2 linked regions of the Homo sapiens genome follow. The protein of the gene in region 2 interacts with the protein of the main gene of each other region in a pairwise test. Each region holds a gene or a part of one and is shown on either strand. Other genes may lie near its edges.

Region 1 (3,500 bases), on a different chromosome or scaffold from region 2:
TTTGGAGCCACATAATCTCTGTCACAACTCAACTCTGTCATTGTAGCATGAAAGCAGTCATAGACAGTATGTAAATGAACGAGTGTAGCTGTGTTCCAATGAAACTTTGTTAACAAAACAGGTCCATAGTTTGCCATTGCCTGGTCTAGGCCTTTTAGATGCACCTTTTTAAAAAAAACCTTTATGGCCAAGTATGTTTAGGAAACAATACCTACCCCACTGACCTAGAATTTTGTGTAACTCTGTTTAACCCGGATTTTCCTAAATGTATTTGACAACCGTGTGCTTTTTTTAAAATGGGACATATACCCTGCAGGATAAATTATGGGAAATCTTGTGGGTTGCAAGTTTGTCAATTTCCACAAATGTTTGGCAAATTTTAGGTCTTATTTGAAAATGTTTGGCAGGCTTGGTGCCATCTCCATTCCCCAAATGGGAAGAGGGCTTGACTTGAGGCTCCAGAGGGTCAGTCTCAGACTCCCCTTTCTGAAAAAATAGAGACTCCTATATGGAGAGTTTGATGGTTATGGTTTGATGGTTTGAAAAGCTCCAGTAAAGCCTACTGCTGGATTTGCCTTGTTAGTTTCTTTCTTTCTTTCTTTCTTTCTTTTTTTAAGGAAATCATTTCGTTCATGCTAGTATTTTACATCTTTGGGATGCAGCAAACAGTATGGAGCAAAGTAGAGGGATGTTACAAGCACATTTTAGGAACTCCAGAACAAATATTCATGAGGCCTTTCCTCAGTTTGGAAGCCTTGACTTGCAGCCTATTTTTAAGCAGTTTTCTGAACTGAGACCCTCCTCTAATGTTATACTGTATAAGGCTCTCACTGATAAATTAATGCAAAATAGGCTTTTCTGCCCCCCTTCCACATCTGAGCCACAAGAGGAGTTTCCCTATTGCAGGGAGGTTAATAACCAGTAGCTCCTCCTTTGCAAATACCAAGAAATTTAAATTTTAGTTTGTTATTCTCCAGTTTATAACAGTCTCTTAATATGGCCCTACTGACTTTTCACTCATGAGGGTAGAACTGGATCCCTTGATGGTAAATTATTGAGAGCCTCTATTTTTTTTCAATGTTCAATACAATGAAGACAGTTGTGCTGGAGAATAGCTATTAAGAGGAAAAGGTTAAAATGAGTAATATTTACGTTTTAAAATAACAATGGTCTTGAAATAACATTTACTTACTTGCACTTAAATACGGAGACTACTACTACCAACACACATGGAAGAGAATAATTGGTATCCTTCACTATTCCTTGAAGAGCCCTAGATTTAGTGCCCATTTACTAGCCAGAAGTCAAGGGTTCAAACCTCTATGAACTTGTTTGCTCCCCTGCAAAACTGAAGTTTTAAAAATGTGCCTGTCCAGTGTCTGAGAATTGTCATGGAACTTCGTGATAATGTCACTAAGTCATTTTATAATCTGTTAAATTTCTTAAAAGTCAAACACGGCCGGGTGCGGCGGCTCACGCCAGTAATCCCAGCACTTTGGGAGGCCGAGGCGGGTGGATCACAAGGTCAGGGGATCGAGAACATCCTGGCTAACACGGTGAAACCCCGTCTCTACTAAAAATACAAAAAATTAGCTGGGCGTGGTGGTGGGCACCTGTAGTCCCAGCTACTCGGGAGGCTGAGGCAGGAGAATGGTGTGAACCCAGGAGGTGGAGCTTGCAGTGAGCCGAGATCGCTCCACTGCACTCCAGCCTGGGTGACAGACCGAGATGCCGTCTCAAAAAAAAAAATAATAAAAGTTTAACACATGACTGCTACTTCTTTGGGGGCATTAAATATTCTTAATACCATCAGAAATAAAGATAGACTCAAAAATCATCTTCATACCTGGAAATCTTAGTCTAGGGATGTTTTCTTGGGAATATTTTTACCAATTAAAAAAAAATTTGAACTCTTGCATGGGCAATTTAAAGGTCTGCAAATTGTGAATAAAGGAATAATAGTTGCGAATAATAACCTGAGAATTATGCAGATACGTGTGTGTTTTTTAGTAGCTTTTTGCTATCTAAAATTATGCTGTTAGTGAATATGATTGTGGTTTGTTCAATTCATACTAAATAGTATATGCCTTTCAGAGTCTGTGGAGATCTTTAAAAGTGCCAACTAAGGGCTGGGTGTGGTTGTTCACACTTGTAATCCCAACACTTTGGGGGGCCAAGGCGAGAGGATCACCTGAGGCCAGGAGTTCAAGACCAGTCTGGGCAACATAACCAGACTCCATCTCTACAAAATAAAAAAAGTAGCCAGGCATGGTGGCACAGCATGTAGTCCAAACTACTCAGGAGGCTGAGGTGGGAGGATTGCTTGAGCCCAGGAGTTCAAGGTTACAGTGAGCCATGATCCTGCCACTGTACTCCAGCCTGGGGTGACAGAGTGAGTCCCTATTAAAAAATAATAATAATAAATAAATAAATAAATAAATAAATAATAAAAACAGTGCTAACTAAAATACAAGCTACCACACACACTGTATCAGCCGATTTTTAAACAGAGTGTGGATGCCACGGGGCAGCTTTGCAGAATGGAATAAAATGGAGTGTAAAAAAGAGCTTGGAGACATGTTATGTGCTAAGAGGAGTGACTCTCTCCATGTTTCCTACAACGTGAATAGAAATAAAGTGTGAACTTCCATCTGACTACTTATTGGTGGGTTGATGAAGAAGCAGATTCATTTCTCTTCTTAGATTTTTTTTCCAAGTGAAGAATGATCTTTTTGGCATACTTCTCATCAAGCTCACCCCAAAACAAGAAACTAACTTAGGTAAATAGATTTAGTTTGCTCAGTCTTTTCCATTTTTGCCACAGAATCTTCCAATACATACATACACACACACAGCCTTTCTTTCAAACAATTGTTATCCTCAAGTAGTTCTGTTCTTCTTCTTTTCAAAATTTATAAGCACCTCGTTATAAGTAAAATGAGAAATGCATTGTAATGAAATGCAATGTAATGTTCAAAATAATTAGCATGCAAAATGCTGAAGAAAAATAGCAATCTGACAAGAAAATGCTACCAATGTATTGAGTTTGCTAAAAAGAGAATGAAAAATATCCTTTATTCTTCAGATTTTCTTATTTCAAAATATGGCCCTGTAAAAGAAAATAGATATCATCATTTAGGCTTGATACAATTAAGGTTATTTAAGATGAACAACAAAAACAACAACAACAAAAATAATTGAAGTTATTTGACGGAAAGGGTAAAATGGCTGAGTCCTATGGCAGCCTTTCCCTAGAAAGACAGTCTTCCATCTCTTCGAAAAGAGAAAAGGGAAGCTACATCTCTGTTTCCGTTAAGCCAGACACAGTCATGGTTAGAATCTCTATGAATTGGTGGACAATGTCATCTCTTTGCTTCTAACCATAGCTAAAGATAGTCAGCTTCTCAAAGACAGTCCCAAGTTGTCAATAAAATCTGGAGCCCATGGCCCTCTCATGGGTTTCCATCAGGACATGTAGTAGGGTCACCACTCACAGTTGG
Region 2 (3,500 bases):
CCCATCCCCACTGTGCGGCTCTCCCTGAGCAGCTCGGGGCCCGCGGGGAGGCAGACCTTTCTCCTGGGCCTCCCGCCGCCTGCGCTCCTCCAGGTCCAGCTTGCTGACCAGCCTCCGGCGCTGCTGCAGGAACTCATCATAGATGTAGGCAGGGTCGGGGGCCCGTGGCACTGGGGGCCGGTAGGGCGAGCCAGGCTTCAGGGGTCCGCTGAGCTCCCCGAAGGTGGCCGCCTGTGGGAGGGAGGCCCGCTGCTGGCCCAGGATGGTCTGGGTGGACTTCTCGAGCTCAGCCAGGAAGGGCCCGGGCCCGGGCAGGAAGGGCTGGTGCTCCAGGCTCCCTCCCTCTCGTGGTGGCGGCGGAGGTGGCTGGTACTTGTCCAGAGGGGCAGGCTCACGCTTCCGTGGCCCCTCCTCTGCTTTCTCCGGGCAGAAGACCCGCTCCACCTTCACCAGCGGCACGGCTGCCTGGCGGCTGGGCTCAAATGCAGCCGGGTGGCTGTGCAGAGAGTGGCTTTCGGCCCGCCGCGTCTCCAAGGTGTTGTCCATCAGGGACACGGGGTTCCAGAGGGCCGTGGGTGCAGCATGGAGCTGGGGCTTGGGCGAAATCAGAGGTGGTGGCCCCCCAAAGTGCTGCGGAGGGTCACGGCCACCTGGCTCGTGACGGTTTGGTCCTGGCCTAGGGAGTGAAACCAACCCTTCAGTCAGGGAGAAAAGACCCTTCAGTCATCCACAGGCTTCCCTGGCTGCCTGCCGCTCCTAAGATGACACAGATGGCGCAGCCCCTTAGAGAGCCAGTGCCAACAGGGCTGCAGGGAGGGGACACACACTCCACCCCAAGGATCATTGTTTCTGTCTTTCATTTTCTCTTTTCCTTTCTTTTCTTTAAAGACTCGGCCGGGCGCAGTGGCTCATCCCTGTAATCCCAGCACTTTGGGAGGCCGAGGAGGGTGGATCACAAGGTCAGCAGTTTGAGACCAGCCTGGCCAACATGGTGAAACCCCATCTCTACTAAAAAATACAAAAATTAGCCAGGCATGGTGGCGGGTGCCTGTAATCCCAGCTACTCCAGAGGCTGAGGCAGGAGAACTGCTTGAACCCAGGAGGCAGACGTTGCAGTGAGCTGAGACCGTGCCATTGCACTCCAGCCTAGGCGACAGAGCAAGACTCCGTCTCAAAAAAAACAAAAAAAAAGACTCACTCTGTCACCCAGGCAGGAGTGCAGTGGGGCAAGCTCAGCTCACTGCAACCTCCGCCTACCAGGTTCAAGCGCTTCTCCAGCTTCAGCCTCCCGAGTAGCTGGGATTACAGGCGTGTGCCACCATGCCCAGCTACTAATTTTTCCTATTTAGTAGAGATAGGGTTTCACCAAGTTGGCCAGACTGCTCTCGAATTCCTGACCTCAAGTGATCCACCTGCCTTGGCCTCCCGAAGTGCTGGGATTACAGGAGTGAGCCACTGTGCCCGGCCCTCCAACACCTGCGGCAGGTGTGTGCAGGCTGCTCCAAGAGGATAGGGAGGCTCCCAGCCTAAGCTGCTAGGGAAGGCAGAGACCCTCTCAGGCCTGGGACAGATCCAGTTTCGGTCGATTTTCCCACCTGCTTGCGTGAATTCCCCTAAGGGCAAGCGCTCATCCGCACTTTCCATGGGGAAACCCACTCTATATACTGGGCTGTGGCCCTGCCACCAGCACCCTCTCCTCCTGCTGTGCCTTGTAGGGACACATGACACAGGGCAGGCTGGCCACCTTCACAGGGCAGTACTCCTCCCTCCCCACTGTCCCCGCAGGCAGCCACAAGACAACCTTCCAGTGTCTGCCCAGCCAGAGCCAAACCCACTGTGAAATGAAGATCCTCCCAGTCAGGATGGGGCCTGTGCCGAGACTGCCCCCCAGTGGCCCCTGTCACAACTGCAGCGACCCCACTGCCCAAGTGGCCTGTGGCAGAGGCCTCAAAGTGTCTTCAAGGACCCAGGCTAAGGCCTGCTGAGGCAGGGAGGGAAAGAAGGGATTTCTAACATCAGAACCCTTCCATTAAACAAGAAGCTGCCCCTTAGTTACACTAAATGGCTTGTTTCCTCAGTGCAATTAAAACAAGATTTAATCTACTCACAGGGCTATTTTTAGTATTGTTTTTCCAGCTTATTTTTAAGAGATGGGTCTCGCTGTGTTACCCAGGCTGGAGTGCAGTGGCTATTTACAGGAGCAATCCCACTACTGATCAGCGCGGGAGTTTTGACATGCTCCATTTCCGACCTGCCCTGGTTCACCCCTCCTTAGGCAACCTGGTGGTCCCCCGCTCCCAGGAGGTCACCATATTTGTGCTGGACTTAGCTGGGACACCTAGTGGGTATAGTACACTACAGCCGAGAACTCCCGGGCTCAAGCGATCATCCCATCTCAGCCTCCAGAGTAGTTGGGCCTACAGGCATGTGTCACTGTGCCTGGCTATCTTTCTTTTTTTTAAAGGGAGATATACTCACAGGATGTCTGGACCAATACTGTGCAGAGACCCTGGGCAAAGCTTGAGGGGAAGAAAGAGGCAGAGGCCACAGCAGGCACACGGCCGGGCTCAGGGATCTCTAGCCTGCCCCGGGAGCCCTGTTTAAACACAGCCACCAAGGCTCTCCCTAGTTATTCCAGACTCCAGGCCAAGGGACAAATCCGACGCTGCTGTCCCTCTTAGCAGAATACAACAGGGAACCACAGGAAGAAGCTGTGTCCTTAAGTAAACAGCAAGGGAATGAAACCTGCAGGAGAATAAATATTTCATGCGCCACACCAAGCACTGAACAGTTTTCTAGCTTGGAGCATGAGGGCCCTGTCAGGCCCCCAAGTTCACAATGCTGTAAGGCCACGTGTGCAGCCGGCCACAGGGGAACCACCGCAGCCAGGGGAGGCCAGGCCCTGCTTCCCATCATGCCCCAGGTCCGGATGGGGCAGCTACACTGGCTGGAAGCAGTCCATGGGTGGGCAAAGTCACAACACCTGTGCTGGGGCCCTGGGGAGCCCTGAGGAAGAAGATGCCTACAGGAGTCAGGGCACCCTGATGTTATCAGGCCATGCCAGGTAGGAGCTGGCTGCCCTCAGTCCTCTGGGTAGTAGGCAAGGCTGAGCCTGAGAGGCCTCAGGGACGGGGGCTGGGAGAGGCAGAAGGGATCTCACTTCGGCCGTGCCGGGCAGTGTGAGCCACAGGGAGACTTAGCTGTGGCCTGGTGACAGTCACTCCCAGTCATCCCTGATCAGCGGGGGCGCATTCCCTCGCTGCCCTACTGGATAACGGAGGCAGGCAGAAGGGAGGACAGATTTTAAACCACCAACACGCTTCCGTCCCAGAGCCCAAGGGTTTCTTATCCCAGGACAGCATCACAGCCTTGAGAGCTGGAAAGATGCTCAGAAATCATCCTACCCACCCTCCTTTGTGGACAGTTGAGGAAAGTGAGGCTCAGGGAACAGAATCAGTGTCCCTAGGTCCCTGAGCTGGGCCTGGAGCAGAGCTATGGAA

The links.
Region 1: the proteins of GSE1 (region 2) and CADPS interact in a two-hybrid assay, tested with the Homo sapiens proteins (one large-scale study listed by BioGRID).

What each region holds. Positions count from the first base shown.
Region 1 is NC_000003.12:62,487,417-62,490,916, reverse strand, and holds part of CADPS (calcium-dependent secretion activator 1), read left to right. Parts: intron 1-3,500.
Region 2 is NC_000016.10:85,658,322-85,661,821, reverse strand, and holds part of GSE1 (genetic suppressor element 1), read right to left. Parts: intron 2,445-3,500; exon of another isoform or gene 2,147-2,444; intron 677-2,146; coding exon 57-676; intron 1-56.